2 separate regions of the Homo sapiens genome follow, and region 1 is linked to region 2. The links come from fine-mapping of genetic effects on gene expression. A gene starts in region 2. The other region holds a variant in brackets. All regions are shown on one strand. Distances are from middle to middle.

Evidence for each region. PIP is the estimated chance that this variant, and not a neighbour inherited with it, causes the effect.
Region 1: its variant is fine-mapped to the expression of TSPAN7 in whole blood (TOPMed, PIP 0.97).

Annotation. Positions count from the first base shown.
Region 1 is chrX:38,651,785-38,654,701 of GRCh38, reverse strand. The region is part of intron 1 of TSPAN7 (tetraspanin 7); the gene reads right to left. Among named protein-coding and RNA genes, the nearest start is that of TSPAN7, 92 kb to the right of the region's middle. The variant C/T (reference allele first, on the strand shown) is at 1,509.
Region 2 is chrX:38,559,972-38,562,888 of GRCh38, reverse strand. It overlaps TSPAN7 (tetraspanin 7), which reads right to left and starts at 1,347. Exons shown (of 8, transcript NM_004615.4): 1 at 1,262-1,347. The coding sequence starts at 1,342. RefSeq lists an enhancer at 746-1,247.

The sequences.
Region 1 (2,917 bases), 92 kb before region 2:
ATACAAATGCCGGCTCACAGGAGGGGCTTAGTTAAATATTTGCTAACTGACCAAATACAAGACAGCAGGCAGGTAAGTAAGTATGAGCTTTGGAGGCATAAAGTCTATTCTCACTAGCACTGCATCAAGGAGGCTAAATGGTGGGCCTGACTACTGTAAGGCCCTGGCAGTTGCACTCAGATAAAAACCTGTGCTTTAGCCAATTGCTTCTAATCCAGCACATTGCTTCATAAATGTCTGCTTTTGGCCACAAGGGGGACTAAATGAGAAAGCATGGGAATAGTTCCTTCTAATCCATCACCACTAATAGAAAAGTAATTTGAAGCTCTAATATCCTATAACTCTATGAGGTCTGTAGCTGATGGTTAGGAGCCAAGATAATGAACAGCATTTAAGTAAGATTTCCCTGTCTCTTAAAAAATGTACAACTGAGGTGCTTACTATCTGTGTGCCCTGTACTATGCTAAGTGCTTTAATGCTTTATCTGGCTCAATCTTCTTAATAACCCTATGAAACGTGCCCAAGGTCATCGCCACTAAATGGCAGAACAGTTACTCAAAGCCCTGACCCTCCACTACTGCTTTCCTTTAATGTCCTCTTTAGCCTGTCTGTAGAAGGTTCTTTCTCCTCAACCCTTTACTCCTAACTCTTCCATAAGAGGAGTTCATAAGCCAGCATCGTCCATCCTGGCACTGATTTTTCCTTGAATCAACCCTGAGAATTTGGCTGCCATAATTAAAAATAAATAAGATCTATAGGCATGGCCAATAATTCATTTATTTTAAAAGGCTATCCATTAGCATTAGGAGATATACCTAATGTAAATGACGAGTTAATGGGTGCAGCACACCAACATGGCACATGTATACATATGTAACAAACCTGCACGTTGTGCACATGTACCCTAGAACTTAAAGTATAATAAAAAAAATAATAAAAGGCTATGCATTATTCCCCTCCTTCAAGCAGGTAAATCTATAGAAATGAAAGCATGTTCCACTCCAAGCTATAGTTTGATACTTTAAAAGCCAGTATGGGAAATAAATATCTTCATGTGTATGTCGACGTGAACCAGAAATGTTCAATATCATTAGCACCAGGAACAAACCTATGGGAGGACTGATCTGAAGAATCAATAAAGCTTGACAAACACATGGAAAACTGTAGTGTCTTGAGTATTGGTTTTCCACCAAGCACATTCTAGAACGAAAGCTTAAGAAACTTAAGTACTCTGGTTTTGGCCCTGAGAAGAGAAACAAGAGGCCACAGGTGCAACATATATGAGAAGAACCCACTCTGAAACTGTGGAATTGCCTTTCAAAGTAGCTCTAACCAAAAGTGATGGGCTGAGTCACGAGATAAGGCAACCGCATCGTATCTGCTCACCCCACAGCCTGGGAGGGGGATTTGATTGGCTGTTCATGAACGAAGGGCACAGTCTGGAAACAGAGTTAACCATGTATGTGTGTGATAAACGACATTTATTGAGCAGTACCGTGCTCCTTATA[C/T]GCTTCATCACATTTATTCTTAATCTCTGTTTTGCAGATGAAAACCTGAGGCTTTCGGTTGTTGACTTTCAGCAACGTGCTCAAAGTCACAAAGCAAATAAGTGGTATAGCCCGGAGTCCAATCAATTTCTGTCCAACTCGAAGGCAGTTTTCTTGGCCATTATTATATTCTGCCTCTTGCGGCAGTGTAAGTAACAGCAGTCAAGGCCAAGGGCTGAGTTCCTCTGTCCAATATTACCCAGTCACTGACCCTCTCGTCTAGGTAGGTGAACGCTAAAGAGAAGCCTGGTTTTCTTTATACTGCCTAAGGGCTTCCTACGAGTGAGCTGTGAGGAAACCAGTACCCTGAACCAATTTCCACAGCGAGGTTTCTTGGGCAGTTTCTAATTGTCAATAGCCAGGAAACATGGGTAAACGCAGAGTGGGAAGAAACGGACTCTACAGACTGACCCTGGGGGCACTGGCCTTTTCCCTTCTCCTTTCCTGGGACGGGCCTCCCGTGCCCCTTATTGGGCATACTCCATTTTATGAACTGGGCTGTGTTCTGGATTATTTATACATTACTTGTTTGAAACTCAAAATGTATTTTCTTTGAGAAACCATGTTATACCTGGTGGCTTGTTTCTAGGCCAGTCCTCAAAAATCTATATTTAAGCCAGTATTAGGGAAAGTTATAGGGAAACAGATTTTTGGCTCATTACAAGGAAGAACTTTCTAATAATAGGCACTGCCCAAAATGGAGTGGGTTGCCTTGGGAGGTGTTACAACAGAAGGTAAACAGCTTTCTGGGCAGCCCCATAGAGACTCTGGATGCAACCATGGGACAGAAGTCCTATGACTGGGAACCCAGCAGGAAGGCCTAAGTTACACTGTTTCTCAAAACCTGTTCTCATTCTGACTATTGTCCCAGAAGACTTGTGCTAGCTAATTGGCTAGCCTTTGCTAGCCAATTATCTCCCTGGATTTTCATACATGGATGAATAGGAGCATTAACAGCACAGGAATTGGGGAAACCATTTTCCCAGATCTGGAGTTTCATTTCCTTTGATCTTCAAAGGAAGCGATAGGTCATACAATTTTGACACATTAAGAGCAAGAGAAAAGCCTGTTCAGTGTAATGGGGCTGCAATGAAAATGAGCTGTGTTCTTTAAAAGAGGATATGGCACTGGAAGGAGTATTTGCCTTATTATTTTAATTCTTCTATTTTCCATAAGCAAATACACTCTACATCACTTAGAGTCAGAAATCCTGGATGACTTTAAGAATCAGTGAAGCTGGTTAAAGATAAATTTACAAAAACTATAGTTGCAACCTTCATACTTTTCACATATAGACAAGGATTCTGTCAAAAACCTGACATATATTGGAACTAAAAAGAGGAAGTATCTAATAAGGTGCTATTAGTAAT
Region 2 (2,917 bases):
TGGCTTTTCCTACAGAGCCTCAGATTTCAAAATGACTGCCGTAGAAGCTAAAATGACCCAGATTTGGGGGACAAGGGGGGAAGAGGGTCGATATTCATTCCCCTGCGGGGTAGCTGTAGCTTGATTATGGGCGTAAGGAACTAGGGAAGACGGGGTCACCGACATGAAAAGAGAAATAACAGGGAATGGTCTTTAAGTACCACGCACCTCTCTCAGTGAATCACTGCAGTGTCAGCCCTGCACTGATTCCATGATTTGCCAAACAGGATGAGGTAAGGCACAAGCCTGGAGCCCCCTCCTCCTCCTCCTCCTCCCCCTCCTCCTCCTCCCCCCTCCCCCGCGCAGAAAGGCGCATCCCTCCGCGAGGTGCACCACGCAGCCCCCCGCGGCCCTGGCTGAGGGGTGACGTCACCCTTCTGCATTGAGCTTCAAGGACCGGCGGCAGCACTGGATAGATGGGGAGTAGAGTTGGGGCGCTATCTCTATCACCAAGTGGAGGGGACCCTCTGCCAGGGCGCTGCGGATTGTGCTCATGCAGTGACAGAACCACCAGATAGGGAGTGTAAGGATGCAGGGAGGTGGGAAAGGAATCCAAAGACTCATCTCTTGGGTCACCAAGAAACCTCAAAGATGCCCCCGGCTTATGTAAGACCCTCTCCCTTTCGTGCGCCTCCACGCGGTGACAACGCCTGCTCCCCATCGTGCGCTTGGGAGACTTCGGTCGCCCTTGCCCAGCCAGGCAGGCACGGTGCTTCTGGTGCCTCCCTCCCGCAGCCCCGTGGGGTCAGGAATAACTGGGAATCTGAGATTAAACCCCACGCTCCCGTGTCCTCTCCTAGCCCGCCACAGGTTAGCTCCAAGAGGCGCCGCGAACCGGCTGGTAGGGGAAGGGAGAGAAAGGTGTACAGCGAGGAAAACAGACGAATAAACCCGCAACTTTCCCCAGGAGCTGACCCTATCCCGGGAGATTATAAAAGAAACTAATGCATTAACATTTTTTTTTTGGAAGGTCGACAACCTGCAGTCACCGACACTCCGCAGCCCCTTGCAGCCTGCGCGGAGCGAGGTCTAGGGTTCCAGCAGCCCCGACCCGCACCCTGCCATCCTGCAGCCCCGACCCAGCACCCCGCGCCTGTCTCCTTAAAGAGGGGTCCCAGATTTGATTTTTGGTTTGGGTTTTCCTCCCCACTTCTTTTCTCAGAGCATCATCATACGGACCGATGGACAGCGACTCGGCCACCGGCCCGGCGTGGGCACTTACCCAGAAGACGAAGGAGTAGATGATGAGGAGGGTTTTGAGACAGGTTATCACAGGTTTGGTCTCCATTCTCCTCGATGCCATACTACAGAGCTCCGGCGGCGGCGGCGGCGGCGGCAGGCGGCGGGCGGGCGCGCGGGAGGGGGAAGAGGCGGGGCGGGGCGGGGCGGCGCGGGGCGGGGGCGCGTGCCGCGAGAGGCCTCGTGAGCGCGCAGGCGAGGCCGTGCGCGTGCGTGAGCGCGCACCGCGCGGGGCTCCTACTGAAAAAGCCGGGCCGGGCAGTGACTGCGCATGCGGGAAACGCCGCCCGCGTTCGCAATACTGCGCAGGCTTAGACCCCCAGCGGAGGAGGGAGGCGAGGCCAGGCGAGGCCAGGCGAGGCGACACGGGGCGCGGCAGGACAGTGGGGAGGGAATGGGAGAATTTAGAGGCCGGGTCAGAGGTCACGGGAACCTCTCCCAGTCCGCCCTGGCATTTAGATTTCTGCTTTGTACACAGTTGGGCGTTACATTTGCAGGTATGCCTGCACCTGGCTATGGGAAGTTTATGGGTGCCCCGCTGCCCATCAGTCACGTTTCTGCATTTTGACACCCCCCAGGGCCTTCTCACATGGAAATGGCCCCGTAGTCATGTCCTTGGCAACCAGCAGGCCTTGTTTGTGCCAGGAACAGACAGGTGGCCAGAGATACAGCTGGAGGGATGGGCAGGAACGCCGGAGCTCAGACAGACCCCAAATCCTCGCCACCACAGGTATCTGCAGGCTCCTCCATTTTTCAGATTTGTCTTACATTTTGAAATAATAAAACGAAATGACAAGAAAGGTCTGTATGAGGCGTCATTCTTGCTGCGCATACAATGTTTAACAGAATACAGAAAAATGTTTAATATGCCTGAGAATCATTTGCAGCGCGCTAACAAGTACAGTCCACCTCCCTCCTGTAAAGGAAAGCTGCATTGAGGTCAAAAAATAATGTTCACAACCAATTTGGAGTTCCTCAAAAAGTTGAACAGAGTTTGCATATGATCTAGCAACTCCATTCCTGGGTATTTACCCAAGAGAAATGAAAATATATGCCCACACAAAACCATATACATGAATGTTTATAGCGGCATTATTCACAATAGCCAAAAATTGGAAACAACTCAAATATCCGTCAGCTGATGAGTGGATGACCAAAATTCGGTGCCTCCATACAACGGAAAATTATTCGGCCACAAAAAAGAATGAAGTACTACTGGTAAATGCTGCAACGTGGATGAACCTTGAAAATATGCTAAGCGAAAGACGCCAGACACAAAAGACCACATATTGAATGATTCATGTATAGGAAATATCCAAAATAGACAAATCCATAGAGACAAAAGAGATTAGTGGTTGCAGCGAGTGGGAGGCAGGAATGAGGTGACTTTTAATGGGTAAGCGGCTTCTTTTTAGAGTAATGAGAATGTTCTAGAATTACATAGTGATGATGGTTGCACAATACTGTGAATTACTAAAAACCACTGAGTTGTATACTTTAAGAGGATGACTTTTATGATATATTAATTATATCACAATAAAAACGTACATTCCACCCAGATATGGTTTGTAGAGGAACACACAGATTCAGTGGGAGATTTAGCTTGATTGCTAAGAGACTAGTCAAAAACAGCAACACT